Linked DNA regions of Homo sapiens. The protein of the gene in region 5 purifies or fractionates together with the protein of the main gene of each other region. This does not show direct contact. Each region holds a gene or a part of one and is shown on either strand. Other genes may lie near its edges.

The links.
Region 1: the proteins of IL17RE (region 5) and HMMR purify together in Homo sapiens (affinity purification with mass spectrometry; one large-scale study listed by BioGRID and IntAct). This does not show direct contact.
Region 2: the proteins of IL17RE (region 5) and FAT3 purify together in Homo sapiens (affinity purification with mass spectrometry; one large-scale study listed by BioGRID and IntAct). This does not show direct contact.
Region 3: the proteins of IL17RE (region 5) and PPFIA1 purify together in Homo sapiens (affinity purification with mass spectrometry; one large-scale study listed by BioGRID and IntAct). This does not show direct contact.
Region 4: the proteins of IL17RE (region 5) and PSME3IP1 purify together in Homo sapiens (affinity purification with mass spectrometry; one large-scale study listed by BioGRID and IntAct). This does not show direct contact.

Annotation. Positions count from the first base shown.
Region 1 is NC_000005.10:163,479,883-163,486,036, forward strand, and holds part of HMMR (hyaluronan mediated motility receptor), read left to right. Parts: intron 1-2,721; exon of another isoform or gene 2,722-2,759; coding exon 2,760-2,906; exon of another isoform or gene 2,907-3,137; coding exon 3,138-3,290; exon of another isoform or gene 3,291-3,385; coding exon 3,386-3,485; intron 3,486-4,186; coding exon 4,187-4,363; intron 4,364-6,154. UniProt on the Homo sapiens protein: Receptor for hyaluronic acid (HA). Involved in cell motility. When hyaluronan binds to HMMR, the phosphorylation of a number of proteins, including PTK2/FAK1 occurs.
Region 2 is NC_000011.10:92,230,090-92,236,243, reverse strand, and holds part of FAT3 (protocadherin Fat 3 isoform 1 precursor), read right to left. Parts: intron 1-6,154.
Region 3 is NC_000011.10:70,321,501-70,327,654, reverse strand, and holds part of PPFIA1 (liprin-alpha-1), read right to left. Parts: intron 3,254-6,154; coding exon 3,152-3,253; intron 2,848-3,151; exon of another isoform or gene 2,809-2,847; coding exon 2,644-2,808; exon of another isoform or gene 2,528-2,643; intron 2,156-2,527; coding exon 2,081-2,155; intron 1,394-2,080; coding exon 1,292-1,393; intron 1,059-1,291; coding exon 837-1,058; intron 556-836; exon of another isoform or gene 401-555; intron 1-400. UniProt on the Homo sapiens protein: May regulate the disassembly of focal adhesions. May localize receptor-like tyrosine phosphatases type 2A at specific sites on the plasma membrane, possibly regulating their interaction with the extracellular environment and their association with substrates.
Region 4 is NC_000016.10:57,179,540-57,183,039, forward strand, and holds part of PSME3IP1 (PSME3-interacting protein), read right to left. Parts: intron 3,012-3,500; exon of another isoform or gene 2,078-3,011; coding exon of another isoform or gene 2,015-2,077; intron 1-2,014. UniProt on the Homo sapiens protein: Promotes the association of the proteasome activator complex subunit PSME3 with the 20S proteasome and regulates its activity.
Region 5 is NC_000003.12:9,911,963-9,917,124, reverse strand, and holds the end of IL17RE (interleukin-17 receptor E isoform 1 precursor), read right to left. Parts: coding exon of another isoform or gene 5,074-5,162; intron 3,420-5,073; coding exon of another isoform or gene 3,170-3,419; coding exon 3,101-3,169; intron 2,724-3,100; coding exon of another isoform or gene 2,578-2,723; coding exon 2,526-2,577; intron 2,447-2,525; coding exon 2,348-2,446; exon of another isoform or gene 1,875-2,347; coding exon 1,318-1,874; 3' UTR 728-1,317; downstream 1-727.

The DNA.
Region 1 (6,154 bases), on a different chromosome or scaffold from region 5:
TAAATAAAAAGTTTATTTTGGGTGGAACTACAAATTACAAAGGCCAATATAATGAATACCTATATATTAATGTTAACATTTTTATTTATCACATTTACTTTAGCTCATTTTGGGGGAGAGTTTCCTTTCTTTTATTTAATAAATACAAAAGAATGCATAACATGTACATAAACTGTAGAGCTTGAAGATAAAACTGACATGCATGAACCTATAAAAGACAACCAGTAAGCCAAAAGATTTTCAACAACTTAGTATCCATATGTAAGTTCCTCTGCCATCCCATGAAAATGGGACAGATAACACTGTCCTGAAGTCTACACTAATTATTTCCTTGCTTTTTCCCCCCTGTGTATTATAATTTTATGACACGTATATCCATACAAATAATGCATTATGTAATTTTCCTTCTCCTTGAACTTTACCAAAAAATGTCATCATAGTATATGCCGTTTCCTGGGACTTATTTTTTCATTCTGCATTATGTGTGTTTTCAGGATTGAATTGTGTTGTCTGAGGCTATGGTTTGTTGATAGTCACTGCTATGAGTATTTTATTGTATGAATATACCACAACTTATTTATTCATTCTTTGGACTTTGAGTTGTTTCCCATTTGGTTAGTTATTATTAGTTATTTTGTGACTATAAGAATACATGTATGTAAGAATTTCTCTAAAGCCAAAGGTATATGAATGTTCAACTCTAAAACTTAATATCAAATCACTTTCCAATGTGGGAGTAAGAATCTACACTCCCACTAGTGTTGTATAAGTTTCCATTTATCTTCTTTGCCAAAGCTTGTTAGACTTCTTAAACTTTGCCAGTGTACTTAGTGTAAAATGGCTTCTTATTGTGGATAATTCATCTTTCCTTTTCCATAAAATGCTTGTTTATGACTTTTGTTTATTTGTCTATAGGGTTATCATCTTTTCCTCATTGATTTGTAGAGGTTTTCTTTATCAGCCATATGGGTTACAGGTATCTTCTGCCAGTTTAGCTTATTTTTTTATTTTCTTTTTGGTTTCTTCTGATGAGTGGAAATTCTTGATTTCAATATGGTTAAAATATTTATCTGTATGTGGGTACTTTTGCTTCTCATTTAAGAACTTCTTTCTATCTCAAGGTGTAAAGATATTCAACCAGTTTTCTTCTAAAAGTCTTAAAATTTCACTTTCCATTTTTCCACCTAGAACTGATTTCTGTGTGTGTAGCAATATAGGGATCAAATTCATTTTTTGTTTTCCCTATGGACAACCAACTGCCTAGTTTAATTTAATTCATTAAATTGTACCTTGTTTCCCCAGTGATCTGTTCCCACATGTGATACATTATGACAGACACATAGATAAATAATTTATAAGTGTATATGTTTTATTTATAATTTTTATTGTATCAGAACATATAAATCATATAAATATATGTAAATTTTATATATATATATTTATTGCTAATATCAATCCTGTAAAGGAATTTCCCTTCTCGTTAGTTTGAAGAATAGTGCTTCAGGGGGTTTTTATCTATTCTGTGATTTTAGTCACTATCCATATACTCGTGGCATTAAAATTTATTTCATCAAACCAGACCTTTCTTTACAGCTCCATATTCACATATCCAGTTACCCACTTGACATCTTCAAGTAGATATCACACTGTCTTTTAATATTAACCTGTCCAAACCAACTCTTGATCCTTCCATTGCTTTCTACCCCTAGTCTCTCATTGTTTTTATTGTAATCAGTGACATCATCTTCCCAGCTTTTCATTCTGTAAATCTTAGAGTCATCCTTCATCATTCTCTCTTCCTTACCCCCAATATTCAGTCTATCTCTTGAATTTTCCTACTCTGCTTCCAAAAGAGATCTTGTGTCTTTCCATTGCCAGCTCCTTAGTCTAAGCCTCCTTTATCACTCACCTGGGCTGATAAATAATTGTTTTGGAGTTGATCCTTCAATTTTCCATTCTTTTCCCCTGCCCTAATCCATCTTCCTCATAGCTCTAGAGTGAGCTACACATTTAATTAAACACCTTTTTATTTTATTTATTTGTTTATTTTGAGTCGGAGTTTCGCTCTTGTTGCCCAGGCTGGAGTGCAATGGCACTATCTCAGGTCACTGCAACCTCCCCCTCCCAGGTTCAAGTGATTCTCCTGCCTCAGCCTCCCGAGTAGCTGAGATTACAGGTGTCCACCACCACGCTTGGCTAATTTTTTGTGTTTTTAGTAGTGATGGGGTTTCACCATGTTGGTCATGCTGGTCTCGAACTCCTGACCTCAGGTGATCCACCCGTCTCGGCCTCCCAGAGTGCTGGGATTACAGGCATGAGCCACCACGCCCAGCCTACTTGGACACCTTTAATGGTTCCCGTCTGTCCGCCAGGTAAGCCCACTGTGCCCTGCGGTGATGACCCTCATGCCACCAGCTTCTGCTCCAGCCTTTCTTACTCATTAGGCTCTAGTCTCACTTCTTATTTTTTAAATTGTGAGTAATTTTCATGCTTGGTAGTTGATTTCTTTTCCATCTCTGTATGCATACTTCCTGCACCTAGTAGGCACTTGATTTTTTTTTCTTTGAATACACAGCAGATGCCATGTAAACTCATTAGTACTTGCCTCAGAACACTGAATTCTTACCTGTGTTAAATGCATGAATACATTAAAAACTTTTTAGTTTTACTTAGAAGTATATAAAGTGTAAACTAATCAGTTATGATTGTCATACGCAATAGTTAGAAAACTACTTTGACTTTTTTTTCTTTTTAATAAGCTATAAAGCGTTAACAGCCAGTGAGATAGAAGATCTTAAGCTGGAGAACTCATCATTACAGGAAAAAGCGGCCAAGGCTGGGAAAAATGCAGAGGATGTTCAGCATCAGATTTTGGCAACTGAGAGCTCAAATCAAGAATATGTAAGGTATATAGAGCAAATAATGGCCTTAGAACCATTAAGACAATTTAATGTTGAAAGCCAGCTAGTAACTGTCCCTTGGCTTGCTTTTGGCCATCTTATACTGCAAATTAAGAATTTACTCAGTTAAAAAATGACACTTCTTGAAGAGTTCCTTGAGGTTTAAAGAAAAAAAAAGGAAAAATTAATGAAAGTGGCTATAAAATGTTTAGTGACCTCTTCTCTCTCAAACCAAAGGATGCTTCTAGATCTGCAGACCAAGTCAGCACTAAAGGAAACAGAAATTAAAGAAATCACAGTTTCTTTTCTTCAAAAAATAACTGATTTGCAGAACCAACTCAAGCAACAGGAGGAAGACTTTAGAAAACAGCTGGAAGATGAAGAAGGAAGGTAATCTATGATTAGAACCTGAGTGCCTTGTTAACTCAGTTACGATGTGATTTTTTAAATAACTATGTTTTTCTCAATTTAATTCTTCCATGCAGAAAAGCTGAAAAAGAAAATACAACAGCAGAATTAACTGAAGAAATTAACAAGTGGCGTCTCCTCTATGAAGAACTATATAATAAAACAAAACCTTTTCAGGTTTGTCAGTTAGGAGTAAACTTACTTGTGTTTATTTTAGGGACTCACTTTGTTCCCTATTATAGTGAGGACAGTGACTCGGGTTTTCTGCAAGATCATTTTGCTCTGCACTTACAGTGCCAATTTAGCTCACTATTAAAGGTTTATACATTTTATTAAATTATGCATAATTTTTTCCCACATTATTGAAGTATAATTGACAAATTTAATTGACATAATTTTTTCAATGGACCCTTTGTGGTTTAAAAAAAAACTTTGTAATGTGGAACTTAAAAGTTTGGCTCAGAGGGCTTGCCTGGTATGAGCTTTTGATAATTAACCTATTTTAATTTGTGGTATGACTTATTGCAAATACTCATTGTTTCTCAATATACTGATCTTTTAAAAGAAAAAAGAATAAATGCTGATTTTGGAACTTAGAAGTACAGTATTGGTTATAATGTGGTAATCTAACTGATACAGATAAAACTGGCCAGCTGGCTTTTTTACCTTGTTTCTTTTCCTCTGTTTTAATGATCTTTAAAATGAAAAATACAAAGTTTAAAAGATTCTCATAGAGAATCTATGGAGAGCCCTGAGAATATGTGAACATACCTTGTTTTCATTTGTGTTTTTAATTTTCTTTAGTGTTTATGGTTTATATGAAACTAGTAAGATCAAACTGTTTTAAGTCTTAACTTTATTTAAAAAATCTTTTTCAGCTACAACTAGATGCTTTTGAAGTAGAAAAACAGGCATTGTTGAATGAACATGGTGCAGCTCAGGAACAGCTAAATAAAATAAGAGATTCATATGCTAAATTATTGGGTCATCAGAATTTGAAACAAAAAATCAAGCATGTTGTGAAGTTGAAAGATGAAAATAGCCAACTCAAATCGGTTTGTAAAATGACTTTTCATTTTATTAAAGATATTGGAGTGGGGGTTATTCTAACTATAATACTTAAATAAAATGAATATCTTTGGTATCAGAAAAAAATAACTGTTTATAGAGGAAAATTGAGCTGTGATTTAGTGGATTTATTTTAGAGTGTTGACCAGATGGGCATTCAATGTTCTAAAGTTTTCTAGCTACCTTCTTAATATATTGAAAATTACTTGAGTAATTGGATGAATTCATTAAGCTTTACATATCTATTTCCATTTGCAAAACTGCAAACTCCTTGATGTAAAACCATAAAGAGAAGCAGTGTTCAAAAATATTTGGGCATTTAAATTTTTTAACATATGTATTGAGATATAATTGACAACCCATACAATCCACCCATTGAAAGTGGACAATTCAGTGTTTTTTAGTATACTCACAGATTTGTGCAACCATCACCATAGTCAATTTTAGGACATTTTCATCACCTCAAAATGAAACCTTGTTATCCTTTTCCTAACACTCTCCTATCTCCTCACCCCACCCCACCCTTCAGCCCTAAGAAACCACTAATCTACTTTCTGTCTCTGTTGATTTCCCTATTGTGGACCTGGCATATTCATGGATTCAAATAATATGTGGCCTTTTGTTACTGGCTTCTTTCAGTCAATTAGCATAATATTTTCAAGATTCACCTGTGTTGTAGCATGGAGAGTACTTTATTTTTTTTATAGCCTAATAATTCATTATGTGGGTATACCACATTTTATTTATTCGTTTGTCAGTTGATAAACACTTGTTTGCACATTTTTGGCTATTATGAATAATGCTACCATAAACATTCATGTACAAGTTTTTGTATGGACATTTGTTTTTTCCTGGGACATATTATTTCCCTGGGAAATAATAGGAGGGAAATTGCCAGATCATTTGATAACTCTACATTTAATCATTTCAGGAAGTATCAGACTACATTCAGATGAGATCGGGTGCGTTCAGGGTGGTATGGCCATAGAAAGGTCAGGCTGTATTCAAAAGTGGCTCATACCAATCTATATTCTACAGGCGGTGTACGAGGGTTCCAATTTCTCCACATTCTTACCAACATTTGTTATTATCTGACTTCTTTATCCTAGCCATTGTAGTGGGTATGAAGTGGTATCTCATTAACTTAACTTGCATTTTCTTAATTGGTAATGATGTTGGTCATCTTTTCATGTGCTTACTGGCCATTTGTATATCTTCATGAAAGAAATGTCTGTTTATACTCTGCTCATTTTTAAATTGGATTATTAGTCTTTTTATTATTGTGAGAATTCTTCATCAATTCTGGACACAAGTCTCTTATGTATTATTTGCGAATATCTTCTCCCATTCTGTGCATTGTCTTTTCACTTTCTTGATGATGTCCTTTGACCCAAAAAACTTTTATGACGTCCAGTGTGTCTATTTTTTTGTTTGTTCGTTCCTTGGTATCTATCTCCTCTGCCAAATTCAAGGTCAGGAAGATTTACCCCTGTGTTTTCTTCTAAGAGATTTATAGTTTTAGCTCTTACATTTAGATTATTGATTGATTTTGAGTTAATTTTTGTATGTGGTGTGAGGTAAGGGTCCAGCTTCATTCTTTAGCATGTGGACATGCAATAGTCCCCACACTATTTTTTAAAGAGAATATTCTTGCCTCCAGTTAATGGAGTTAGCATCCAATTAAAAAATCATTTAGACTGTACATGTATGGATTTATTTCTAGACTCTCAACTGTCTTCCATTGATCTATACATCTATCCTTGTGCCACCACACTGTC
Region 2 (6,154 bases), on a different chromosome or scaffold from region 5:
TGCCCACAATGGTCACTATGGAGTGACCCATACCCCAGTGGGCATCTGGGCCTCAGAATATACTGGAAAGACTCAATCCCTTATGAGGTGTGTTGACTGTAACTTAGTGTAATAATAGTTACAGCACAGGTGTTTATGAATAATTTAATTTTTAAATAGAATTGAGAAAGGCTCCAAGGATTCTTATAATAATAACATTCTTACTTATGTGTTCTATGCTTTCTTGAGACACAAAGAACTCAGCACTGAGATATGCTCCTACCTCCCAGTCTATTTTACCTTCGACTGTGAACATCAAACGCCATGCAAATGTACTATTAGGTACATAACACCCTTATCATACATTCCTTGAAGACAAAGTGATGCTACTGAAAGGCGGCTGGACACCTGGATGCATCCAACATGCCCTCTTGATGTGTTCCCAACACTTGCTTAGAACATACAGGAAAGATCCAGAGCTTGAGCAGATCAGCCAATAAAGAGCATGTGTATTTATGCCTAGAGGATCTTTCCTCCAACTGTGAAATGTGGACCTCAGAAGTAATATATCTTTGCAGTACCAGAATCATAACGCAGTCTTAATAGCTCAAAGAGATATTTTTCAATATTTGGTCATAGATGGTCAATTGTGGAAGTCCATAATCACTAACCAAGTTGAACATAAACAAATAGAGTCATTCAATTTTAAATATTAAATACCAGCAAGATATAGCAATAAGAGTGGGAGACCAAAGGTTAATATGTTATCCCACTGAGCCCAGGGAATGATGGCCTATGGGAGAAAGAGACACCCGCGCAGGTAATTTCATTACAAGGCATGTGAACAGTGCTGCAATAATACCACAAAGTGTAGGGGGACCTGAGTGCAGAGATATGAAGAGACCATATAAGAGGTCAGGTGTAAGCAATACCTTCAGGACGGCATGGAGCTGCAACCAGTGACTACAGGAACTAGAGAGGGTTGGGAGAGATAAAGGGGCCAAGAAGTACCAAAGAGAGAAAAAGGCAGAGGGGCTGCAGAAGACAAGAGGCCCTGAGAGATGAGGGGAACTTCTCTGGATGCTCCAAAGGCTAGAAATGGGAGTGTCAGCAAAAGTACTGACATTGTCAGAGGTATGATTCTGGGTTGGACTGGCCTGGCCCTTCTGTCCAGAATTTTTTTTTTTTTTTTGAGAGATGGAGTCTTGCTCTGCCACCCAGGCTGGAGTGCAGTGGCGCAATCTTAGCTCACTGCAACCTCTGCCTCCTAGGTTGAAGCGATTCTCCTGCCTCAGCTTCCCAAGTAGCTGGGACTACAGGCATGTGCCACCACGCCCAGCTAATTTTTTTTTTTTTTTTTTTGAGACGGAGTCTCACTGTTGTCACCCAGGCTGGAGTTCAATGGCACAATCTCGGCTCATTGCAACCTCCGTCTCCTGGGTTCAAGAGATTCTCCTGTCTCAGTCTCCTGAGTAGCTGGGATTACAGGCACCCACCACCACACCTGGCTAATTTTTATATTTTTAGTAGAGATACGGTTTCACCATGTTGGTCAGGCTGATCTTGAACTCCTGACCTTGTGATCCACTGGTCTCGGCCTCCCAAAATGCTGGGATTACAGGCATGAGCCACCGTGCCTGGCAATTTTTGTATTTTTTAGTAGAGACGGAGTTTCACTATATGTTGGCCAGGCAGGTCTCGAACTGCTGACCTCAGGTGATCTGCCTGCCTCAGCCTCCCAAAGTGCTGGGATTACAGGCGTGAGCCACCACTCCTGGCCCAGAAATTCTTAAACTTTAACATTTCCTCAACATCTCCATAAACTAGGTGGACATTTCTGTTTTTTCTCATTCTAGTTCCATCTTCTCCCTTTATTTTCCCCTCTGATGCCACTTCTCGTCAAAGCAGTACTGAGGGAGAAGGTCAAACTCTTTCATTTTATTATATATTTGAACAAAAACGTATTTCCAATATGTATACACTCTTGCATCTCTTTGAGAAATTTAATATACAAAATCTAAACTTAAAAAACAGATAAATGTAAGAGAGACAAATTGTTATTTACTTTATAAAAATAATTTGCCACATCTGTTTAAATAAAGAGTGTATTTTCCCTAGTTGAAAGCATTTAAGATGTGATTTGTTTTGAAAAATGTCATTTACACTCAATGTTTAAAAACATATCTATTGTATAAAGAACAATCTAGGTTTATTCACTTGGATTATTATAGTAACCACTGATGAGCTGTATGAAAGTGATAAATCTCAAAATACCTGCATCTCCCTCTTTCTCTTTGGATATGAGGTAAAATATGTTATTAATACTACCTATTTAACAAAAATATGCAGAATGTAAACTGAACACAACATGTGCACTGCTGAATACAACTTAGGAATAAAGTGATTATTGCAAGTTATTACACTTACAAAATGTACACTTCCAAATAAAAGAAGATTATCTAATTATCGTATAATTCAACAAGATCTAGGGAATTGATCTGGCAATATAATATGTTTTGTCTTACATTTCCCATTCAATTGTTCAATTGCCTAGATTGCCCAATTTCCTCATTGTAGCAGTTGTCTTCTGAATATAAATATAAGTCCCATTGTTAATCCAGGGACTTCCAAGCAGATGATGTCACTTCAGTTCACCATCTTACTGACTTAGGATCACACATACATTACGACTTATACCTATTTAGCTGAACATCACTCAGGTGAGGAAGCTAACTTTTGAAGGGTCAGACACCACATTTATTTAATATGCTCCATGAAAAAATTAGTCCAAGATAATAGTAGCACTCTTAGTATACTTTGCCAACAATGACACGGGCCTGAAGAACCCAGCACATGCCACCAAAACGACCAACGATGTAATGTGTACTTAGTTCAACCAGACTGTGAATGATCTGCTATGTCTACAGGAAAGATGGAACGCTAGATTACTTTAAATAGCTCTGACTTAGAGAACATACCTATGAAGATGAGGAATTAAAAAATCTTATAAAGTAGCTGTTCACATTAGTACCAGTATAGGAGACAGCCAAAATCTAAGTTATAAACAGGTAATGAAAAATCCTCAAGGACTAACTGAACCATGTTTCTCCCTACCTCACTTGTCAACATTCCCAAGTTCTCTCTTTACTAACTGCAGTTCTTTCAGGCACTTATAATCATCAAATGCAGTTCAAAAAGAAATATATCCAACAACAAGAATATTAAAAAAGAATTTCAGTCTTCTGTATGATTAGAAACTGTTTCAGCCCAACAGTCAGGAATAAAAAGGATTTAAACTAATAAACCATTAACTGAAAAACTGAGAGAGATGTAGAGAAATGTGAATTTAAATGTAAATTCTGCCATCAGGTAAATATAATATAAAGCTAGTAGTTATAAAGAGGAAGTTACTCTAATTACTTCTAAGTTGCTAGGCCAAAAATTCCACAATAATAATTCTACCTCCCAATTGTTGTTTTTCAGAGGTACTGAGTTTTGCCTAGTGCTTTGGTGATGCTTCATAATGTTTACAAGACACCATGCGTCCACTCCATGGAAATAATCATCAATGAGAGAAGCAACATCATCCTAATCAGTTGCACAGTTAAACAAAAAAAAAAAAAAAAAAAAAAAAAACGACATCACTGAAGTCAAGAAGCACAAAATGACAAATGGTCAAGTTCCAACAGCTAAAAAGATCCAAGACATTATGAGCTTTTAATGAGTGAAACATGCCATGAGAAAGAGACCTTCTGTCAATAAATCCAAATCCTTGTTCACTAATTAAACCATCTTATACAGTGTCTGAATATGTAGACACCAGACTTCAACATTTCTTAATTATATTCAATTCCAGGCATATTTTTCCATTTAATTGACATTCTGAAATGCCTTTACAGTCCTATCAGATAGGTACCAAATTCTCAAGAGAGATTACCACACACTTCTGAATTCTTATTCATTTGATTGAAACTGTTATTAGCAAAGGTTTTTTTTTTAAGTGGAAAGTGTGGGAAAGATTCACACCCCATTCTATCCATAACATGGGCGATGTTAAAGTCATCTGCATTTGGCCCACTTTCATGTGTACATTTCTTTGCAGTGAAGTTCTCCATAGCCAGGCCAATCTGAGAAAACCCTAGCTGCAAAATCCACCCTAGCATGGGACGGTACCACATGAATCACATAACACACTGCTCACCCAATCACAACAGCAACTGCTATCATTAAGCCACCACTTAGAACCAACAGAGAATTTCAAACCACAATCAAAAATAGATTTCAGAGGTCCAAAATATTGATCACATAGACTTAAAAAATCAACAAAATGTCATGTGTGATAAATGCTCTAGGTTTCAAAAAAGACCAAGCTGATCCTGCTACCAAGATATAGCCTCATTTTGCTTTGAAAGAAAACACACACAGACTTACATAGAATTTATCTGACAAAAAAAAAAAACCCTGATATTTATACTGTCATTAAGCACATTTGTCACTAAATTTAATCTGTGTCATCTGGCATACTCTTAGATGTTTACAATTATCAAATAATGTTCAATGATATTTAGTAGCATTAATAATTTGGGGCTTATCTCAAAATATAAAACATCAATAGCTGCTCCAGAGTGCTCACTTTTTGACCTTCCATGGTACTGAAAAGGCTACAATTTTTTTCAGATTGTTTGGAATTTAATTTAGTTGAAGTCCTGAAGTTACAATTAAACTTCCACTTAACCTTTCATAACTGTGCCTCATTCAACAGCTGGGCTTATCTCCAACATCTCAAAAAAGAAAAGAAAGAAAGAATTAACTGAAATATTATTTGCAACTGCTCTGAAAAGTACAAGTAGGATCAAGTCATAGAGAACGTCCAAGGTAAAAGTCTGCCTTTTCACTCACATTCTGGAAGCTAATGTTACTTTGTAAGCCATTTTTTACAAATTTTTTTAAGGTAAAAAACCAAGCAACAGATCTAAATGATGAATACCTAAAGGACAGAACACTCTGAGGTGTTCTGTGACAAAGTTAACCTTGAGATTCATAACTGAGTCTCAAACATAGGAAAACAGAGGACTAAGAATACACCATGTGCACCTGCATGCAGGCTCCCAGACACATTCAAAAATCCTAAAAGTTACCTTTGAAATTGGGGGGTGGGAGACCACAAGGGGATAGTGGAGAAAGGACATGAATAAATTCTGAAGTCTTCTCAAAATATTAACTAACATTCCGACAGCCCATTTGGGCTGCCCCATGAATACGTTCTTCCAAAAAGGAGCTCTGCACTGCCCCCTGACAAATGAAGGAATTAATTTATTTCATAGTGCCTTGCATACATTAGGGCTGTAGTAAGAATTATTAAATGGAATTATATTCACTTTAATAACTTACACTCCTCTTAAAAGTTTACTCCACCTCACATTAATCTCTCCCTCCTCCTTGAGGCTCCTGTTCATAGACATTCTTTTGTCAATTAATAAACATTTTTAGATGTGACTTCTAGTGTACACACACAGGCATCTCTCATTTTCTCAATAAACAGCACGAAGCAGAAGCAATGGATATATTTTACTATTCTTTGAATCTTGCCCACTGTCTTGTGAAAGAGGTAGATTCAGTAAATATCGCTGAAAAGAACTTTAAAATAATTTTTTTAAAAAATAAATAACAGGGCTGAGGACGGTGGCTCATGCCTCTAATCCGAGCACTTTGGGAGGCCGAGGTGGGTGGATCACTTGAGGCCAGGAGTTCGAGACCAGCCTGGCCAACATGGTGAAACACCCTGTCTACTAAAAATATAAAAATTAAGAGGGCATGGTGGTGTGCGCCTGTAATCCCAGTTACTCGGGAGACTGAGGCATGAGAATCACTTGAACCCAGGAGGCGGAGGTTGCAGTGAGCCAAGAACACGCCACTGCACTCCAGCCTGGGCAATGGAGCGAGACTCTGTTTCTAAATAAATAAATAACAAAAATAAAATAGGGAAAATAGAGGAGAAAGCAAGACATTTTTTAAAGACAAAAAATTATTTTAAATTCCATGTGACTTTACAGAATTTTAAAAAGGGATATATTTCAGATGTACAAAGGCAAAAGTTAAAGAAACAACTTTCCTTTATTAAAGAGTCTATAATTCACAGTTTTGGAACCCTGGAAGAGCAGAACGTTGAAATACT
Region 3 (6,154 bases), on a different chromosome or scaffold from region 5:
ACTACAGGCGCCCGCCACCACGCCTGGCTAATTTTTTTGTATTTTTTAGTAGAGACGGGGTTTCACCGTGTTAGCCAGGATGGTCTCGATCTCCTGACCTCGTGATCCGCCCGCCTAAGCCTCCCAAAGTGCTGGGATTACAGGCGTGAGCCACCACGCCCGGCATTCATGATCAAATAGTTTCTCACAGTTATAATGGCAGAAATATTTGTCAGCAATGAGTATATTGTGACATATTTTTGCTATACGATCCTGATGACCCATGTAGAAGCAAATTCCACTCTTGATTGTTTGACCATTAATATTCAACGCCACAAATTCCTTGAAGGAGCAGGTCAGAAAATGAGAAGACCGCCAGCAACGCCCCCTCCCACAGTTAAGAGACTATACTCACATTGCCCTACGTGAGCTAGCACAGCCAGTATCAATATCTGCTTGCTAAGTATGTGTGCAACAGAAGGCAATCTGAACATAAGAACAAATTAAGACAGCCTAGAAATTGCACAGATGAAGAATCTACAAACAAGGACATTAAAGAATATTAAAGCAGCACAGGTAGGAGAGGCCAGTGTGGCGTCCACTTCATGGCCATGTCAGTCAGTGGGACTAGTTCTCTACTTTGAAGAGCTCAGGGACAGGAGATTTCACAACAAAAATGGGGAGGTAGCTTATGGCAGTTTCACAGCACTCTCTCTTTTTCAATATAACTTATACAATAATCCAAAGGTTGAAAGTAATTGGGAGAGTAAGAGACAAACAGAGAAAAAAAATCATTTAACTAAAACGTCCCAAACATACAACTTCATGACAAGACTGTAGTTTTTGTTATTGCTCACTTCACGGACATCTCGTTGCAATTTTGTGTTCATTTCTTCAGATTTGATGAGATCTTTTCTAGCCGTGTCCAGATCCTCTTCCAGTTCTGTCACATGACTGGAAAGGGAAGCCAGGCGTTCTTTCATTTGGCTCTGTTCCCTTGACTGCTTACTTATGATTTCTTGGAGCTCAATTACTTTAGCAAGGTCTTCCTCGTGGCTTAAAGAACCATCAGAAGATCTCTGATAGGGGGAAAAAAAAATCCTTAAATACCCTTGTTTGGTGAGCTATAAAATAAAAATACTTCCAGGAAATAGCTAAAATCAAAACTGACTTATGCAATCTGTTGGATTACACAACTTTCATGACCACTTCAGCTCTAAGCCGGTACTTTAGCAACTGTTTTCCACATAACCCGACACATACTGTGAACAAATGAAATCAAACAGAATAAAGACAAAGCCTACAGACTTGCCTTTCCACTCGTGCTTGGTGTATTTTCTTGTTCATGGTTTATGTCCAGCACTCCATCTGTTAGAGTTTTTTTCTGATTATTCTGTTCTTTAAGAATCATTAGCTGAAAGCAAAAAATTGAATATGAGTGTAAAATACCTTACATAAGAGAAATAAGTAAAGATAGCAAAACTCCTTTTGGAAAAACACAACTAAAAACTGCTTAACATAGTATAAAAGAGAAAGCATATGGCAATGCTACCCAATCCGAAAATAACCAGATCATTGAAGATGGAATTTATTATCCACTGGCCAGACGAGTCCTTAGGTAACCATCATTTTGTAGTCCTTAAAATGACTCAGATAGGCTGGTCCTCAATTGGGAAGATAAGTAACATGTGATATGTACAACTACAGTCCTTATACTTCTTTTACTTTTTTTTTTTTTTTTTGGAGACAGAGTCTTGCTCTGTCACCCAGGCTGGAGTGCAATGGTGCAATCTCAGCTCATTGCAACCTCCACCTCCTGGGCTCAAGCAATTCTCATGTCTCAGCCTCCCGAGCAGCTGGGACTAAAGGAACATGCCACAACTCCTGGCTAATTTTTGTATTTTTAGTAGAAATGGGGTTTCACCATGTTGGTCAGGCTGGTCTTGGAACTCCTGACCTCAGGTGATCCGCCCGCCTCGGTCTCCCAAAGTGCTGGGATGACAGGTGTGAGCCACCACGTCTGGCCTTATGCTGCTTTTAATAATTAAAGGATAAAAATAACCCCCCCCCAATTCAACTCATGATGAAGTCTCAAGCTTACCTCTTTGTGTGTGGCACCTAATTCCTCTTCTAACAAACTACATCTTTCAAGTGCTACTCGTAATCGCTCTCTCACCTGAAAATAAAAGGGGTTGAGTTTGTGTGTGTGTGTGTATACTGTTTATTTTATTCTTAATATATAGTTAAGTGTAATATATACACTTAATGTATATATTAGTGTAATATAACATAATAAAATACCATTAATGTCTGTCATTGATCTTACTGTCAAGAAAACTTGTTAATGGCTCTAAATTAAGTTTCAGAAAAATAAATCTTCCCCCGAAATATCAGGTTGTTGCAAAAGTAATTGCAGGTTTTGCCCACAATTACTTTTGCAACAACCTAATACTACCCAATTTGTAACAGCAAATCAATATACATTAGTAATTTTAAGACATTTAAGCCAATTAGTACTTTTTAAACCTACAAAACCCTGTCTTCTTAGAGAAGTTATTTCCAAGAATTCAAGAAGCTTCAAAAAACAAAAGTTACACCAACACTTGTGAAGCTGGCCTAATACACAGCATGTGCACAAACCAAGACTTATGTGGCTGATGGCACCTTTTCATCCAGAGCTTTGTGGTGTTCAAATAAGGACTTCAGTGCTTTCAGCACTTCCACTTCGCTGGACACGCCTGCTGGAGACTGCGCTTGTCTCTTCACCACGGTCATCCTAAGAGACCGCTCATGCCTGGAGACAAGGCATTCCAAATGCTCTAACAGCAGCTGAAATAAAAGGCCAAAATAAAGACTTGTTAAACAGCATTTTTAATTTCATGATTGAATCTGGGGCAAATAACTCCTTTACAGTCTCATACTAAAATGAAGTCCCTTCAATTCCGCAGAAAAACAAATTCCTCTCAATTGTATTAAAATATCATAAATTCTCATCACAAATTTCAAGCCATTAATGTGTGATCATGCTGACTAATCACAGTCTGCTCAGTGGGAAAAGGTATGAAAAGTATTTCAGGCCAGACAGAGTGGGTCGTCCTTTCGTTTTGACACACCGCCCCTCCTCCTGACAGTGGCTCCAGGGGCAGGCAGTGAACAGAAAGGTCACACTCACCCTGGTGTTATTCCTTTCTGCTTTCAGTTCAGCAATTTCTTCTTCCCTTTCAAGGAGCTGTTCCCTGCATACATTGAGTTCTTTAGTAAGTGCTGCGAACTCCTAGAAAATCACAAAACAAAATTAAATAAATAAGAAAGACCCCCTAAAGAAAGCCTTTCATCAAGGCTCCACAGTCTTCACACAAAGGCAACCTCATTACAAGTTATGGGGAAGGGATCTCAGTGATCCTCCAGAGAAAGAGGGCATCAATGGACCACACAGATTCCCTAACAAATCACAACACTGACAGACCATCTGACTTCCCTCTATCCCTGCACCCTGGGACAAGGACAGCAGGGAAAGAAGGGGAATCCAAGTCCACCTTCTCAGCAGCCAGAGAAGTCCAAAACATTTTCCTGAACAGGATCCTGACATGAACTGAATGAAGACATTTTAAATGACTCACAGACATGTGATCTAGAGTTGCTGGAGAGAGAGGAAAGATGGCCTAGAAGGCCACCACCCCTGTCCTAGCCTCCTTTTCTTCCTTTTTCTTTCTGAGACAGGGTCTCATTGTGTCACCCAGGCTAGAGTGCAATGGTGTGACCATGGCTCACTGCAGTTTTGACCTCCAGAGCTCAAGTGACCCTCCCAAGTAGCTGAGACCACAGGCTTGAGCCACCGTGCCCAGCCTCTCTTCTAAAGTAATATTTCTTCTGCAAGAATCCCTACTGTGGGTAATCAACTTCTAGCATGACAGCACAAGAAGCTCCACTGACCTGCTTGCTCCCAAGGAAAACAGGTGAACATTGTAAGAAAACAACTGTTCTGAGACTCTGGAGATCGTTCTAAGGGTTCACAGCAAACAACTGAAAATTCAGTAAGAAAGGCCAGAGTCTGTTGTATTTGAACCAAGACTGCTCCCTGCCTCCCCTTTCCAGGTCAGTGAGGCAGCGACTCTGTTCCAGACTGCTGCAGCTGATAATGTAGTGCCCTCTCCCCCAGTTCCACCCCACCCCAGCTACGTGGTGCTGATGCTGCATCCTGGCTAGTGGAGTCATGGGCAAAGTGGGCCTTCCTACCTCTGTCCAGCCTCCATTCTGGAATGGAGGCTCAACTTTGAGTGTGGCAGGCTGAGAATACTGGGGGTCCTGATCAGCTGTGCCCTGGCTCTGTAAGACGGTAGCTGCAGGGCTGGAGTGACAAGCTGAGAGGGCCCTGGCTGCCGCCATAAGACCAGGGGCGTCATTCAGGGAGAAACGAGTTTGGTGACATTTAAACCTCTTTAAATGTTAGGGCACTAACATTTAAACCCTGGGCACTCTCTTTAAACCTAGGAGCAGTGGAGGTCCTAGTGAAGGCAACTGGAGGTGTGGGTTTAATGGAGGCACAGCCTGGACTGCGGCTGGCTAGTCAGCAGGGAGAGCTGGAGAATTCTTGCTGCAGGAGCCCTCCAGAGTAGGAACAAATCTCCTAAAATGACTTCAGAAACTGTTTCTTAGAATTAGCCACAATTTCACTGAATTGGTTTCTAATTATCCCAGGGCACTGCTGAAGACAACAGAAACATATGTGGGGCTCAGAACTGAGTGTGGTCAGAGAGAGTGGAAGACAGCAGCAGGGTGACTGTGGACACATCCAAAGCTGCGCCTGGCTGGGGAGTAACAGCAGAGGCTGAACACAGCGGGGGTGGGGAGGGGACACAAGCACATTCCACTACATGAATCTAGCATTCACTGAACTGCTTAAGCTGGCAAGTTTTATCTTAGTATATTTTATTGCAATTAAATATATATAGACATTATAAACATATTATACAGTGAGTTTTGGAGACAAGGCTGCTCCTGAGACCATAAAATTAGCTAAAGAACATGAATAGCTCTTCAATTCAGTATTTCAGTGCATACTTGCAAACACAAAGAAATGCCAACAATACTAATGAAGATCACCCAAATGTGGCTTAAAACCTGGTAAGGATCTGTAAGTGCTGAAACCTCTTCAGAGATCGAACGCAGCATTCAGAAGCGGGCTCCTGGGCTGGGCAGCGTGCGGGAGGAGGGTAGGGAGAGGCCGCCAAGTAGACCGGTCTTCTGTCCATGTCCTCCCACCAAGTTTGTTTTCCTTCCTAAGTTTCAGAGATTTCTTATGTGCCAATATTAATCATATCAAATACCGATTTACATCTCTGATAATTAACTCTAGCTGACTGTCAGATCATCTAATGGCTAACTTTAACGAAACACTGTCATCTCATGAAGGGGTTCGTACATGAGGAAAGATTATTTCTCTTGCAGGCAAAAAGCAAACAGACTCAAACTAGCTTCAGTTAAAAAGCCATTATTAGGCCAGGCATGGTGGCTCACACCTGTAATCCCAACAGTTTGGGAGGCCGAGGCAGGCAGATCACCTGAGGTCGGGAGTTCGAGTCCAGCCTGACCAACATGGAGAAACACCATCTCTACTAAAAATACAAAATTAGCTGGACATGGTGGTGCATGGTGGTGCATGCCTGTAATCCCAGCTACTCAGGACGCTGAGACAGGAGAATCGCTTGAACCCGGGAGGTGGAGGTTCCGGTGGGCCGAGATTGCACCACTGCATTCCAGCCTGGGCAACAAGAGCGAAACTCCATCTCAAAAAATAATAATTAATAAATAGCCATAATATGGCACATAACTGTCAAGTCAAAGTACAGAGTCGGCTACAGGCCTGCCTGAATTCAGGACCTTGAATTTTATCATTGTGCCCCTCCATCTTGTCCCTGTCATCTGGGTCAATTTTGTGAAGTAACTGCCAATCCACTAATTTTGTCTTTGACTATGTCTGGTCCAGAGTCTATCATCCTGGCTAATATCCTTTTCATTTACTAGATTTCAAGTTCTTCTTCCTTTTTCTTTTTCTTTTTTGGGTCATATCTTCTTACTCTTGTTTCCTTTTGGGCAATTTCTTGTTTGTTTTCATGGATGCTAATTTATCTTTTTAAGCATCTTAAACATACTTATTTTGACAGTTTTTGCCAGA
Region 4 (3,500 bases), on a different chromosome or scaffold from region 5:
ATTGCTATTCCTAACTTGAAAAATGACTCCATTTAGCTAGTGCCATGACACAAAGTAATGAGATCTGGTTTCCTATGGAATTGAATTATGTGATGGCAAACTACTTGAGTGTTTACATCACTGGCCACCATATCCTTCTAATTCTAAAATTAATTAGATTGTACATGTTAAAACACACCAGAATCAGGTTTCTGTGTTCTGTTGTTTTAAGGCTTCACTTTCAGTAGCAAAAGCAATAGGTCAATCCATTTCCTTTTGTGAGTAAATATAGATTATTGCTTTCCAACATTTTTTACTCTGATGTTCAAGTCACACTGTACTTCAAAATGCAGGACAGCAACTAAGAGGAATTTGCCATCTGGCTAACTCATCTATATTTCAAATAAAGACTTATTTCTGGCCAGAAGGCACTTCTACCAAGATACAGTTATTTAGATTTTTAAAAATTTAGCTGACTTTTCCTATATCATAAAATTTATTTAGAGAACAACAACTACTAACAGAGAGCCCGCTGTTAGTATTTATTACTAGGCAAAGTGAAGTCAATCTTCTAACACCAAAGCTTAATTAACATATTCCGGTAGCAAAGGAGACTAAAAGAATCTAAAAACTAAACCACAGAAAAAGAAATTTAATCCATATTTTAAATGTTTATCATAAGGAGCAATTTGCAATAACCTTTCAGGCATCTATGAAACACATACAATAAAAAATTCAGCTTTGCAATAATCTTTCAGGCATCTATGAAACACATACAATAAGAAATTCAGCCAGGCATGGTGGCTCACACCTGTAATCCTAGCACTTTGGGAGGCTGAGGCAGGAGGATCGCTTGAGGTCAGGAGTTCAAGACCAGCCTGGCCAACAGGGTGAAACCCCATTTCTACTAAAAATACAAAAATTAGCTGGCTGTGGTGACATGTGCCTGTAATGCCAGCTACCTGGGAGGCTGAGGCAGGAGAATCGCTTGAACCCAGGAGGCGAAGGTTGCAGTGAACTGAGATTTCACGCCGCTGCACTCCAGCCTGGGCAATAGAGCAAGACTCCGTCTCAGAAAAAGAAAAAAAAAAAAGAAAAGAAATTAAGGCCTGGTGCACTAGCTCACACCTGCAATCTGAGCACTTTGGGAGGCCAAGGCAGGATTGTTTGAGCCCAGGAGTTCAAGACCTGCCTGGGCAAGATGGTGAGACCCCAACTCTATTAAAAACAAACAAACAAACAAACAGACAAACAGGCTAGGCACAGTGGCTCATGCCTGCAGTCCCAAAGCTGTGGGAGGCCAAGCTGGGAGCATCACTTAAGGCCAGGAATTTAAGACCAGCCTGGGCAACACAGTGAGACTCTCTCTCTACAAAAATATTTAAAAATTAGCCAGGTGTGATGGTGCACTACTTAGGAGGCTGAAGTGGGAGGAAGGCTTCAGCCAAGGAGTTCCAGGCTACAGTGAGCTATGAGGGCCATTGCACTACAGCCTGGGCAACAGCACAAGACCGACCTTGCCTGGCGAGGGGGAAAAAAAAGAAGTTAAAAAAAAAGTATTGATTTATTTATCTTTCCATAGCACAAGGGCAGGGTCTCAAATGTGCATTTATCTTGAATTCACCTATACACACTAGAAGAAAGATAACTAATTTAAATATCGGTTCCCTTAGCTGATCCTCATTCACATGCACCTCTCTGAATATAAATACTTCCCTCACTATGCATGAATGATTGTATTCATTGTATTTTTTACATATTGTGACTCCTAAATACAAACCAACAACTTCATCTGGGGCTCACAGGAAGAAAAACAGCAGTTTTTTCCAAAGCCGAAATAAAACTTGCCTGAGGATATAGAGAAAAAAAAAACCCAAACCAAACCAAAGCATTTTTGCTATTCTCTCACTCAACAATCAACACAGTATAATTCTGTGAGGGATATGTCCCCACACACCAAGCAACCAACCAATTCTGTAGCAGACACCAACCAGCTGGGTGTCCTCTAATTCAGTTCAATTCTGACACTACCTACCTGGATGGAGACCGCGTCAGATCCCATAGGTTGAGGGGTGAGTCCCACAAGACTAGCCTCCATTTTAGATACCAACCACAAGAATCAGGTTGTTTTACCTGTAGTTCTAACCAACTGGCTATTAATCAGGGTTCCCATGACCCCCTCCTTAGGTTCTATTAATTTGCTAGACCAATTCACAGAACTTAGAGGAACTTAGAGGAACACTTTACTTACATATACTGGTTTATTATAAAAGCATATTACAAAGGATACAGATGAAGCAATGCATAGGGCAAGGCATGTGGGAAGGGCACAGAGCTTCCATGCACTCTCTGGGGCACCATCATCCAGGAACCTCTCATGTCCACCTATCCAGAAGCTCCCCAATCCCAGTCTTTTGGATTTTTATGGAAGCTTCATTACTTAGACATGACTAATTAAACCAGTGACGCTGGTGGTCATCAGCTCGTCTGCCTTCTCCTCTCCCCAGAGGTTGGACATTGGTTGAAGGTCCCAACCCTCTAATCCTGCCTGGGTCTTTCAAGTGACCAGCCCCCATGCTAAAGTTACTTAGGGGCTGCCAGCCATCAGTCAGCTCCTTAGCATATAAAAAGACACTAATCATTTTGGAGATTTCAAGGATTATAGGAGTCATATGCCACAGGAGACAGGGATGAAGGCCAAATATGTATTTTACAATATCACACTGGCCATGTCAGAGTTCTGCAACACTGGTATTCCTACAATTAACATGCTGCCTCCCTGAGATTTCAAGGGTAGCTTTGCTTGTAAGCTATTTTGTCATCTAGGCTCGCTTCAGAACCTAACCCACACCTCAAGTCATACTCCATCCTCCCTCCCCCCACCCTATATAACTCCACTTCAAGACCAAATTAAAAACAAAATAAAACAAAAAAACGCAGTCCCAGTTACTCAGGAGGCTGAGACTGGAGGACTGCTTGAGCCTAGGAGTTCAAGGCCAGCCCGGGCAACATAAGGAGATACCCATTTCCCTTAAAAAAAAAAAAAAAAAAAAAAAAACTTTGCATTACAATAACCAGACAAGGCCAACTAAGATTTTTTTTTTTTTTTTTTTTGGCGCAGTGGCTCATGCCTGTAACCCTAGCACTCTGGGAGACTGAGGCAGGTGGATCACCTGAGGTCAGAAGTTCGAGACCAGCCTGACCAACATGGTGAAACTCCGTCTCTACTAAAAATATGAAAATTAGCCAGGCGTAGTAGCACATGCCTGTAATCCCAGCTACTCGGGAGGCTGAGGAAGGAGAGTTGCTTGAACCCGGGAGGCGGAGGTTGTAGTGAGCCGAGATCGCGCCACTGCACTCCAGCCTGCGCGAAGTGGGCGAGACTCCATCTCAAAGAAAAAAGATTTTTGAAGCAAATATTTACCGAGAACCTATTATGTGCAAGATACAATGCTATGTACTAAACAGGCAACTGAGGAACTTACACTCATTCAGTAAAAGACATAAGGTTGGCACACAGC
Region 5 (5,162 bases):
ACTTCCAGCACGGAGTGCTTTCGTTTTGGCTCCCGGCAGGCTGCTGGCTGTTCCCGCCCCTCTCTGTCCCTCCCACCAACACCAGGCTTGGGAGCCAGCAGCCTTGGACTAGGGTGGTGGCCGCACCTCCTCCTTCTTTGGCTCTCCTCTCCCTCTGCTGACACCTGGCTGGGAGGGGCCCCTGAAGAAGACAGCGAATGCATCACGGCTGAGTAAGGGAGCTCTTACTCACCCCCGGAGCCCTAAGGAGGACACAGCCCTGGAGTCCTGGGCCCACTAAGTCTCCCCTTACTAGGCACACTCGGTCCCTTCAGACACTCTTTGGGCCTCGGTAACCCTTTGTGGGACAGGAGCTCTAAAAGCACGGACAAAAGGCACCAGAAAGTGGGCTTTTCACCACTGCCTGGCTCAAATGCGGTATGGGGAGTAGAAGGAACCCAGGACCCCAGAGCCTGGCAGACAGGGGTCCCATCTGTGCTGTTGCTGTGGGCCGGCTGTGTGATGATGGACACACCATCTGGCGAAGCCTCTGTTTTCCTCTCCTCTTGTAAGAATCACTGGGGGGGATCAAGGAGATTGCCCCATCCTCCTTTGCTTTTGGAGGCATTGCTTGTAAGAATGTGACGGATGCCATGCGGTATGGACACAGAGGATTTGGGCCAGCACACTGACACATACCCCACCAGGCAGGCTCCCCAGCCACACTAGAGAAGCACACTGTGTTTTCTTAGTTTGTCATGTTTGTCTTTATTCATCTTTCCGGATCTTGGTCCCCACCGCCAGCACCCACCCACCCCACCCCCAACCCCCACTGTCCTGACCACCTGGAGCCAAAAGCCTCTTTTCCTAGGTCCAGAGTCCTCTCTCCCTCTGGCCAGAGCCTCAGAGTGGGAAAGGGAATCCCTGGCCCCCAAGGAGGTTTTCTCTCAGCCGCCCCCTGCAATCCCCCACCGCCTCACCCTCCTTCAGAACTGACATGGCTCCTGCCTCCCTACCCCGGCCCCAACCTCTCCAGCCTGGACTGAAGCATAAGCACACTGCTCTTTCTGGAGTTCTGGAGAGGAAGTGGGAAGACCGCCCTCCCCCATCAGAACAGGGGTTAGAGGAGCTCTCAGTCAAGGGAAAGTATGAGGAGGAAGAGGGACGCGCGCGGGGACTGGGCTGGGACTTCCGGCCTGTGAGGCAGGGAATGCGGCTTTTCGGCCAGTCGTCCTCGAGGCACCCCAAGGATTTCAGGGTCGAAGGCTCATTCCGGGGTTCCAGCCAGTGTCCGTTGCGTTGCGGCCGCAGACACCCGGGACTGCGGTGGAGCTCTGCTCAACCTAGGTCTGCAAGTCGGGCGGCCTCTCGTTCGAGCCGGCTGCACAGCTCTAGGCGGCTCTGCCTGCGCTGCCGCGCCCCAAGGCGGCCCCAGCTGGTGGCCTCTGCGAAAGGCCGCGCGTCCAGCGCCCGCAGCAGACGCGGCAGGTCGCGCAGCAGGCGGTAGCGCGGCAGGGCGCGCAGCGGCGGGGGGATGTCGCCCTTGGCGCAGAGGCGACTGAAGTAAGCGAGCAGCAGCAGCGGGCGCGGGGCAGCGTGGAGCAGGGCGAGCAGGGGCGCGGCGCGGGGGTCGGGGCCGCTGACCGGGCGAAGGTCGGCGCCGCTCCACAGCAGCAGCACAGTGCCCTGCTCCCGCGCTACGCGCGTCCGCGCCGCCCAGAGCCACGGCAGCGGGCCCACGCGCGCCACGTGCCTCCCCTCCCACAGGTCCACGATCACGTCGCGCCCGCCGCCCAGCGCTGCCCGTAGCAGTTCAGCCAGCGCTCCCACCAGGCGCCGCTGCGCCTCCGAGTCCGCCGCGTGCAGGAGGAGCACTGGCCGCGCTGGGCCCGGGCCTGGTGGCGGGAAGCAACAGATGAAGGCTGGGCGGCTGAGGGACTGCTCAGCCCTCTTCTCCCCACCCTCTCGGGATACCGTAGGGTGCTCGCCTCTCCGCCCCCGCCCCCGCCCCTTATTTGCTCTGGGGGTTGGTACCGAAAACAGCCCTAGCCTATAGGGTGCTTATGGGCTAATTAGATAAAGGCACCCCTTCTGAAGAGAGGGTCAGGGCTCCAGGCTGGGCGAGTACAGCGCAGGCTGGATTTCTGCCCCACTAGCCTTTTGTACAGAGACTCAGTACAGTGACAATATGCTCAGAGGGCCCTTTGCCTTGCCTTAACCATTCCTGCTCACTTGGGGGCCTGAGGCTCCCTGCCTGGGTAACAGAGATTGGGTGCAGTGCTGAGAGCTCAGACAGGGGAGGGTGAGGGGGCAGCTAGTCTCCGAGCTGGGCAGGTCTGACTTCCCAGGTTACCCCAGGTGAGCTTACCTGACTGTGGGCGCCGGCAGGTGAGGGCCAGAACAACACCCAGTAGGGTGAGGAGGGCCAGCAGTGCCAGGATCAAGAGCCCCAGGTGTCTGTAAGAGACTGAGTCAAGCAGGATGAGGCCAAGCCCAGTTCCTCAGTGCCCAGCCTCCCTCTTACCTCCCCCTCCCCAAGAACTCACCATCCGGACACAAGAGGTGCTTCCAGGCAAACTGGACATCTGACCGCCACACCTGAGGGCACAGAGCCCCCCACCCCTATGAGCCAGGCATCTTCTCCTCCCGGGGAGCTGAGTGAAGCATGGAGCTGGGGGAGAGGGGAGTCCCCACTGGCTAGGGAATTCTTCCCAGGTGGGTTTGTGTCTGCTCCAGCTGCTAGCCTGGCACAGAACAGGTCAATGGTGGCAAACTCAAGTGTGACAGGGGCCAAACTCAAAAAGTAAACTCAAAGTTGACCAGGGCTGCTGTGAGGACCTGGAGAGCACAGGCCCTGACTGAAACAATCAGATGGCACTGAGCTCCAGGCCATTGTCACCATGCCAGAATGTGGACACACGGCACTAGGTTTTTCTGATTTTTCAACAGAGGCCAGAAATCCAGCTTTGTTTATATATGTAAATGGTGGTAAGCAATTTCAATTTAAAACACTGTGCTGGCCAAACCAAACATTTTTGCAGAATGGATTTTCCAGGGGTGGGTGCCACTAGGGGAGCAGATGCCAAGGCTCTGTATGTAGAGTGAGGGTAGGTTTCCTTACCAGGACACAGCACCCTGGCCTCAGGAAGGGAATGATGAGGTCTAGTGACACTGGGCTTGAGCCCCGGGCCTGTAGAAACAAAGAGCAGAAAGGCTGTCCCCAGGGAGGTGAATCTGGCCCTGTCTGGCCTTGAGTCTTTGCCCCTGCTGTTCCTCCCCACCACACCCCCAATCCTACGAGGCTTAGGCCAAGTGCCACCTCTGACAAGAAGGCTTCCCCAGTCACTCCGGCTCCCACTGATCTTTCCCAGAGCTCAGCTCCTGCTGCAGTCAGGTATTTGTCAACAGACAGACTCTGAGTGTGTCCTCTGTGCCAAGCCCTGAGGAAAGAAGGCGGGTGCGGACATTGTCTGTGTCCTCTAGCAGCTCACAAACCAGGAAGGCTGTCTCACTTTACTCTCCTGCACAGCTGAAGAGGTATCAAAACATATCATTGAAAAGAATGTAAGTTTTAAGGTCAGGAGACCTGGGTCCAGGCTTAACTGTTGCCTTTGTAGTCCCTAGCTTTGTGGTCCTTGCATGGAGGTAGGTTACCTCTCTTTCCTAAGGCTCACTTCCCTCATTTTTATTTTAATTTTTTTATGTTTGTTTATTTATTTATTTATTTATTTATTTATTTTTTGAGACAGAGTCTTGCTCCGTCGTGCAGGCTGGAGTGCACTGGTGCAATCTTGGCTCACTGCAACCTCCACCTCCTGGGTTCAAGCTATTCTCCTGCCCCAGCCTCCCAAGTAGCTAGGATTACAGGTGCACGCCACCATGCCCAGCTAATTTTTGTATTTTTAGTAGAGACGGGTTTTGCCATGTTGGTGAGGCTGGTCTCAAACTCCTGACCTCAGGTGATCTGCCCTCCTCAGCCTCCCAAAATGCTGGAATTACAGGCGTGAGCCACTGCGCCTGGCCTACTTTCTTCATTTTTATATGGGGGATAATAATCTTTATTTTACTGGGTTATTGAGAGCATCAAATGGGTATATGCACATGAATGTCTTTTTAAATAAACTACAATGTATATTCATTTATTGGTAACAGCTATTATTAGTCTATGAACTCCTTAACTGTGTTATATACTTTTCTTGTATCTCCCAGAGCCTGCTACAGGGTGGGCACAAAGCATACTAAATTGGACAGAATTTTAATTAAAAACATTTTTTTTAGAGTCAGAGTCTTATGCTGTCACCCAGGCTGGAGTGCTGTGGCATGATCATAGCTCATTGCAGCCTTGGACTCCTGAGCTCACACGGTTCTCCCACCTCAGCTGGGACTACAAGTGTGAGACACTGCATGTGGCCATCTTAAGCGTGACTTGGTCTTTCATACTGTGTTGCTATCACCTGTCTGCTTGGGAGCCCTCATACAATGCAAAACAAACATATAAGCTGCAAGTGAGCATTTAAGAAATAACTGTTTGAAAGAGCTAGTCATGCTTAGTCAGCGTGGTGCTGTGGTATTGAGGGTGTACTTGACTGTGGTTTTTATATCAGATACATGGAAGATAGTCTGATAAAGTGCTCCTAGTTACGTAACAGGTGAAATTTGTCAATAGTTTACAGGATTGTGCAGAGCCTGTCAGCTGCATGGGCTCTGCCTCCTAGGATAGATAACTTCTGCACAGGTGCCTCGTGGAGGCAGGAGAGTAGTGGTAGCGGACAGCTGGGTTCAAGGGAAGGCATCAGTATTAAATGTTGTTCTGTTAGGCTAGAGCAGTGGTCCCCGACCTTTTTGGCACCAGGGACTGGTTTCATGGAAGAAAATTTTTACACAGAGGTTGAAGGGGTTGGGGTTTGGGGGAATGGTTTCAGGATGAAACCACCTTAGATCATCAGGCATTAGATTCTCATAAGTAGCTCACAACCAAGATCCCTCGCATGCACCGTTCACAATAGGGTTTGCGCTCCTATAAGAATCTAATGCAGCCACTGGACTGACAGGAGGCAGAGCTCAGGCAGTAATGCTTGCTCACCCTCCACTTACCTCCTGCTGTGTGGCCTCGTTTCTCACAAACCACAGACAGTTACTGGTCTGCGGCTCACGGATTGGGACCCCTGGGCTACAGGACACCT